Homo sapiens: one gene and its partner. Changing the gene in region 1 together with any one later gene gives a genetic interaction. Each region holds a gene or a part of one and is shown in the gene's direction. Other genes may lie near its edges. The genes, in order: SEMA4C and ARID1A.

Region 1 (3,810 bases):
GCTCCCTGTGCACACACCCGTGTGAAAGGTGATGTCAGGTGTTTGTATCAGCCGTGCGCTCTGGGGACCTGGGATGAGCTCACCTCCCACAGGCTCCACTCGGGTGCCAGTGAAGCCCTGCCATGCCGGTCTGTGTCTGGATCCATTGTTGCCTGCAAAGACTAAGGCTGGTTTGGGGGGACCCTGAGGACAGGTCGGCAGCCATATTTGGCAGCTGATGTAGGAATCACGTGACTGTATAAATGTCGTAGTGCCCTGCATGCCGGGTGGCAGCAAGACTTCCCAGGCCCCAGCCCCATCTCCGCTCTCTGAGCCTCTGGTTTCTCCGGACCTCCCTGGCCTGGCTCACAGCCCAGCTCCCCTCCTGCCATCCCCACCTGTCCTAGTGGCCTGCTGTGCTCGCATCTCTGGCAGCCTGGATTGGGGTCCTGCTGGAGTGAAGGGTTTCCTGAGGCAGGGAGTACTCATAGCCGTCTGTGCCTCCTGCTCTGCTGGACTCTGATAGAGGCAGTGGGCAGCAGGGCAAAGAAGGAAGCAGCCGCCGAGGAAGCGAAGGTGGGGTGGGGGTGCCCAGCCCTGCGGCCGGAGGTGCCATTGACCCTGAGAGCAAGAGCCATCAGTCTGATGGCTTCCTCTGGCCGGAAGCTGTGGCTGAGATATCCTTCCTTCCTCCCAGCAGCCTGGATTTGCCTCCTCCCAGGCTGGGAAAGGCTAGGGAGGCCCAGGTGGGGCTGTCAGGGCCAAAGGCTGTTTCAAAAGTGTCCTTTATTGCCAATCAGGGGGTTTGGCTGGCATCTGCTTGTGGCATGGGGTGCTGGCTCTCGTGGAGCAAGACTGAGGGCTGTCGAGCCCCAGGGGTCCTGCCCATCAGCAGCCATGCTTACCCCTGCAGAGCTGGCCACGGTAGTACGGCGGTTCTCCCAGACCGGCATCCAGGACTTCCTGACACTGACGCTGACGGAGCCCACTGGGCTTCTGTACGTGGGCGCCCGAGAGGCCCTGTTTGCCTTCAGCATGGAGGCCCTGGAGCTGCAAGGAGCGGTGAGAGGTGGGGCAGTGGGAGGCAGTCGGGCCTGCCAGAGGGCAAGGCCCAGAGGGGCTGTGCTTGGCTAGGTGGTCCCTCAGCCTGGCTGCCCCCACAGAAGTGCTGCTGGGCATCCGGGGCCTGCCCTCTGGTTGGGGTCAGCATGCGGCATTCCTCTCCTCTCTGGCACTTACTGAATTCTGTGTAGTGGGGTGGTTTGGGGCTTCCATTCTGTACTAAAGGAAGTCCCCAGAGAATAGGGACCATGCCTCTGCACTGGGCGTCCCTGTGTTGCTGCTGCAGGCTGTGCTTGTGACACGTGCTCAGTCCGTACCTGTAACGTGGCTGACATCCCCTTCCCTTTCCCCAGATCTCCTGGGAGGCCCCCGTGGAGAAGAAGACTGAGTGTATCCAGAAAGGGAAGAACAACCAGGTGGGTGCTTGGACGCTGCTCCTGGTGCTGCCTTCACCCCAGGACGTCTCCTCCCATTCTGGCCCTCGCGCTCTCACTAACCGGACACCTTTCTGCCCCCAGACCGAGTGCTTCAACTTCATCCGCTTCCTGCAGCCCTACAATGCCTCCCACCTGTACGTCTGTGGCACCTACGCCTTCCAGCCCAAGTGCACCTACGTCGTGAGTGCTGCCCTCCTACCTCGGTGTCCCCAGCCCCCCGCCCTCCTCACCCTTCTCTGGACTCGTGGATGTGGCCCACAGAGCCCTGCCCTTAAGCATCTCCTCATCACCTCTCTCTCTGTCCTTAGAACATGCTCACCTTCACTTTGGAGCATGGAGAGTTTGAAGATGGGAAGGGCAAGTGTCCCTATGACCCAGCTAAGGGCCATGCTGGCCTTCTTGTGGGTGAGTGGCTGCCCCCCATGCAGGCTGGGTGAGTCCTTGGGGCTTGGTTCCACTTGGGTCTGTGTTGGCCGGATGTGTCCATACCTCATGTGTGGCCTAGCTGACCTCTGTCTCCCATAGATGGTGAGCTGTACTCGGCCACACTCAACAACTTCCTGGGCACGGAACCCATTATCCTGCGTAACATGGGGCCCCACCACTCCATGAAGACAGAGTACCTGGCCTTTTGGCTCAACGGTGAGCCACCGGGGGGCCTGTGGGAGCCATGGGTGGGAGGTCCCCCGGGGCCCAGCCCCTCCCTGCTGACCTCCTCCCCTTCCCACAGAACCTCACTTTGTAGGCTCTGCCTATGTACCTGAGAGTGTGGGCAGCTTCACGGGGGACGACGACAAGGTCTACTTCTTCTTCAGGGAGCGGGCAGTGGAGTCCGACTGCTATGCCGAGCAGGTGGTGGCTCGTGTGGCCCGTGTCTGCAAGGTACCGAGTCTCACAGCGGTGGGCCCTGGGAGCCCTGCTGGCCCAGCGGGGCTGACCGGCAGTGTCCCCTTGCCGTCTGCCAGGGCGATATGGGGGGCGCACGGACCCTGCAGAGGAAGTGGACCACGTTCCTGAAGGCGCGGCTGGCATGCTCTGCCCCGAACTGGCAGCTCTACTTCAACCAGCTGCAGGCGATGCACACCCTGCAGGACACCTCCTGGCACAACACCACCTTCTTTGGGGTTTTTCAAGCACAGTGGTGAGTTGGCCAGGGCTCCCACAGAGTGGGGAGGAGCTGGGGTTCAGGTCAGGGACGGTGCATGGGTGGGAGCCTGGACCAGGCCTCAGAGGCAGTCCCGGAAGCCAGGTGTCCAGAAGCCAAGGAGAATGCTGGCACCTGCCCCTTTCAGAGCTGCCTGTGAAGGGGCAGGGCCCCATGCCAGGTGGCACTTGAGCTGCCAGGGCATTCTGGTACCCATGGCCAGTTTGTGCCAGGCCCTGCCTTCCTGCTGCTTGCCCTTAGCTGGGGTGGGAAGAGATAAGGTGGGTACCTGACCCTGGGCTCCCTCTCGCTGTGACAGGGGTGACATGTACCTGTCGGCCATCTGTGAGTACCAGTTGGAAGAGATCCAGCGGGTGTTTGAGGGCCCCTATAAGGAGTACCATGAGGAAGCCCAGAAGTGGGACCGCTACACTGACCCTGTACCCAGCCCTCGGCCTGGCTCGGTGAGTGCTAGGGCAGGGATGCATCTCCCCACCCAGCTGCGGTGCCATCCCACCCTGCTGATGGCCTGCCCCCCACACCCTGCCCCCAGTGCATTAACAACTGGCATCGGCGCCACGGCTACACCAGCTCCCTGGAGCTACCCGACAACATCCTCAACTTCGTCAAGAAGCACCCGCTGATGGAGGAGCAGGTGGGGCCTCGGTGGAGCCGCCCCCTGCTCGTGAAGAAGGGCACCAACTTCACCCACCTGGTGGCCGACCGGGTTACAGGACTTGATGGAGCCACCTATACAGTGCTGTTCATTGGCACAGGTGGGTGCATGGGTATGCAGGCATGGCTGCTCAAGGCTGGGCAGAAGCCCGTGTGCCCAGGGCAGGGAGATTTGGAGCTGCCCCACGGCCTTGTGCCCTCTCATTTACACCTTCTCCTCTGCACCCCCCAGGAGACGGCTGGCTGCTCAAGGCTGTGAGCCTGGGGCCCTGGGTTCACCTGATTGAGGAGCTGCAGCTGTTTGACCAGGAGCCCATGAGAAGCCTGGTGCTATCTCAGAGCAAGGTAGTAAGTTGGGCCCTATCTGCCACTGTCCCCAGCACTATCCCATCTCACTCTCTCCATCTGGCTGCTTCTCCCAGTTGGGCCTATGTGCTTGGCCAGTGCAGAGTTAGGAACACACACACATGTGGATGCACACCTTGCCTAACTTGGGGTGGGTTCCTGGAAACG
Region 2 (3,810 bases), on another chromosome or scaffold:
GTCAGGACATCGAGACCATCCTGGCTAATACGGTGAAACCCTGTCTCTACTAATAAAGTACAAAAAATTAGCCGGGCGTGGTGGCAGGTGCCTGTAGTCCCAGCTACTTGGGAGGCTGAGGCAGGAGAATGGCGTGAACCCGGGAGGCGGAGCTTGCAGTGAGCTGAGATCGCGCCACTGCTCTCCAGCCTGGGCAACAGAGCGAGACTCCATCTCAAAAAAAAAAAAAATTGAACTATTGTTTGCTATCTAGAGCTTGAACTCTCTTAGTATCTTTCGTGGGAGGTAGAAGATAAGAAAATCTGGGTGTTGGCCGGGCTCGGTGGCTCATGCCTGTAATTCCAGCATTTTGGGAAGCCGAGGCAGGTGGATCACCTGAAGTCAGGAGTTCGAGACCAGCCTGACCAACATGGAGAAAGCCCATCTCTACTAAAAATACAACATTAGCCGGGTGTGGTGGTACATGCCTGTAATCCCAGCTATTTGGGAGGCTGAGAAAGGAGAATTGCTTGAACCTGGGAGGCTGAGATTGCAGTGAGCCGAGATTTCACCATTGCACTCCAGCCTGGGCAACAAGAGTGAAACTCTGTCTCAAAAAAAAAAAAAAGAAAATCTGGGTGTTAGCTGGACATGGTGGTGCATGCCTCATAGTCTTAGGCACTCAGGAGGCTGAGGAAGGCAGATTGTTTGAGCTCAGGAGATTAAGGCTGCAGTAAGCTATGATCACACCACTGCATTCCAGCCAGGGTGCCAGAGCAATACCCTGTCTCAAGAAAATAAATTAAAGAAAAATAATATCTGGATGTTGCATAGTTCTAGTTTTGGGGACCCATAAATGTTTTCCTTTTAATCCTTACTAGATGATCACACAGCACTATTTGGCTCCAGTTCAAATCTAAAAGCTCAGAGTCTAACCTTTGTCTCTCTCACTTTCCATCTTCTTCCTTAGGCCGCCAGGCTACCCCAATATGAATCAAGGGGGCATGATGGGAACTGGACCTCCTTATGGACAAGGGATTAATAGTATGGCTGGCATGATCAACCCTCAGGGACCCCCATATTCCATGGGTGGAACCATGGCCAACAATTCTGCAGGTAAGTGCTAGTCATTCTCACTAGGGATTTCTTCAAGAGTCACATCACAGCTAAACTTACTGGACTTGAGAATTTTTTTCTCTTTTACAGGGATGGCAGCCAGCCCAGAGATGATGGGCCTTGGGGATGTAAAGTTAACTCCAGCCACCAAAATGAACAACAAGGCAGATGGGACACCCAAGACAGAATCCAAATCCAAGGTAGTGATTTTTGTCTTGACTCCTTTCAACTTTGTGTCCTATCTTTTTCAGTGATAGGAAGGAAAAAGAAAAGAGAGTGACAAGATCCCAGCCTTTTATGACACCGGACTAGATAGTCTCTGAAAAAGCTGCTGTTGCCTCCTCTTATCATGAAAGGTCCCAGAATAATAGCTCAGTGAGTTGGGTCTGGGTTGGTCTAAGGGATCCTGGTAAATAACATAATATTCTCACAGCTGTTTGTTATGGGGGAAATGCCAGACACTGCAGCATCAAACTCTCTGTACTGTTTGGCTGGTGCCCTCTGTGAAACCGTGCCTCCTATACTCAAGCATTGATAGATGGGGTGTGCCATGGGCAACTAGTTGCTCTTCTCTTCCTGAACCTTACTCATAGCAGCAGGAATGGTACCCTGTGTTCTGTAAAGAAGGAGATAAGGCAGATGAGGCTTGAGTCCTTGGCTTCCCTTAGGTTGGTCCTGGGTGTACTGTTAGGCTGTGCGGTAGTAAAGGGTCCTACTCAGCATTTGGGTCATTTGTAATATTTCTGTCCTTGGCCATACCTCACTTTCCCTATCTGTATACATAGGGAAAATAAAAATCATAGCTGTTAATTCCTGTGAGTCTTCACCTCTGGCTCCCAGCCCTTTTGACCACGTTCCTGTCTTGTACAGGATAATATCCAAAGCCCTTCAACCAGGTGGGAAACCTTTCCTTTGTTTAGAAGAGGCAAAGAGTTTCTTTTCATTTTAGTCCATCCCATTGCCTCAAGATCATGTTGTGAGTTTTTCGATTTCTCTAAAACATAGTACCTAAGTATGTTCAGGCTCCTGGGTAGTAGTGTGGGAGCAGTAGTGGCTTTGATGTCAGGTGGACAAGGATTTGATACTCAGCCTGCCACTTAAAAGCTGTGAGATCTTAGGCTTTGCCTCCTGGTGCCTGCTTCCTTATCTTTACAAATGGGGATAATTTTATAATACCTAATATATAAAGGCATCTAGCACAGCACCCAGTACATAACATATATTTAGTGTTAGCTTCCTTCCTTTATAGGAAAAAAAAATTTGGTTCTCTTTTGGCCCTTCAACCTTATGAAGGTAGGACAGGTGTTAGTAACCACCCCAGAGTAAGAAGCTTTAACACTGCTCCAGTCAAGAGACTTCTGAGACCCTTAGCACAGGCTTTGAATCTGACCCATTCCTATGAATTTTGACCTGAACCTTCCAGAAATCCAGTTCTTCTACTACAACCAATGAGAAGATCACCAAGTTGTATGAGCTGGGTGGTGAGCCTGAGAGGAAGATGTGGGTGGACCGTTATCTGGCCTTCACTGAGGAGAAGGCCATGGGCATGACAAATCTGCCTGCTGTGGGTAGGAAACCTCTGGACCTCTATCGCCTCTATGTGTCTGTGAAGGAGATTGGTGGATTGACTCAGGTGAGTGGGCGCCTGACACTTGACTGCCCCTGTGGTTTCCACAAACCCCTTTCTAGGTACTCACTGGCTTCATGTGGTACCATGCATCCCACAGGGACATCATCCCCTCTCCCGCTTTCTGAGTCTAATATTGATAGACCGGGGAGCACAGGTTTCCCAGAAGATAAGGCAGGAAGCAGAGACCTCCCTGGTAGTATGAGGTATTAGCAGTAAGTTTACCGTGTATCTATGGTCCCACTGAGGTGTAAAGCTAGGGAAAGTCTGTGGGCATTCTGATTCCATGGGAGGCAATTTGGCATAGTAGCAAAGACAGGATTTGGAGAGATGGACCTGGTTTTGAATCCCTTCTTGGCCACTTATAACATATATGACCTTAAGGTGTGTAACCACTCTGAACCTTAATTTCATTATTTGTAAAATACAAACAGTATGTAACAGTATATAACCCACTAGACTGTCAAAAGTTAGAAATAACTTTGGCTTTCAGCAAGGTTTCTGCCACATAAATCGGCCTGCAAGATGGTACAGAGGCAGCCAGAGTAGAAGTAGATCTTCCCATTCCTGGAAGCTTCCCAGTAGAGATAGGATTTCAGGAACTGCTTAGTAGAAATAGTTTATAATAAAGGAAGAAGTAGTAGGAAATTATGTGTTTAGTTATTCTGTATGGGAAACTTAAATGAAAACCTGAATTGGACACCACCCAGAGCTTGTGCCTACTCTGATACCTTACAATTTTGTAGACTCAGCCCAGGAAGCAAACAGGTGAGGCAGCACAGACAGACAGCAGACTGTGCCTTGCAGACTTCCCTCCTGTGTATGTTCTGTAGTCACCAGACCAGAAGCCTGCTGTTGGATCAGTTTGTGGCTGAGCTCGGGGAGGTGTGGCAGGGAGGGATTTATTCCAAACCTTCTAAATCAGAAGAGGAAAACAGCTGTCACCAGCAGAAAAGAAAGTGGTTGGAATGAAGCCAGCCAACAGTCAGTTATGAATTCCTTCTCCCTTCAGGCTTTATTCCCCTCCCCCACAAAGGAAAACAAAACAAAATAAGACACGTGCATACTGCCACATAACTGGCATGAGA

Evidence for each region.
Region 2: changes in SEMA4C (region 1) and ARID1A together harm fitness more than expected from each alone (negative genetic interaction), as found in Homo sapiens cells (one large-scale study listed by BioGRID).

What each region holds. Positions count from the first base shown.
Region 1 is NC_000002.12:96,863,514-96,867,323, reverse strand, and holds part of SEMA4C (semaphorin-4C precursor), read left to right. Parts: intron 1-892; coding exon 893-1,041; intron 1,042-1,394; coding exon 1,395-1,457; intron 1,458-1,559; coding exon 1,560-1,658; intron 1,659-1,786; coding exon 1,787-1,883; intron 1,884-2,003; coding exon 2,004-2,120; intron 2,121-2,208; coding exon 2,209-2,360; intron 2,361-2,443; coding exon 2,444-2,619; intron 2,620-2,941; coding exon 2,942-3,086; intron 3,087-3,175; coding exon 3,176-3,398; intron 3,399-3,529; coding exon 3,530-3,642; intron 3,643-3,810.
Region 2 is NC_000001.11:26,765,272-26,769,081, forward strand, and holds part of ARID1A (AT-rich interactive domain-containing protein 1A), read left to right. Parts: intron 1-949; coding exon 950-1,095; intron 1,096-1,185; coding exon 1,186-1,295; intron 1,296-2,518; coding exon 2,519-2,728; intron 2,729-3,810. UniProt on the Homo sapiens protein: Involved in transcriptional activation and repression of select genes by chromatin remodeling (alteration of DNA-nucleosome topology).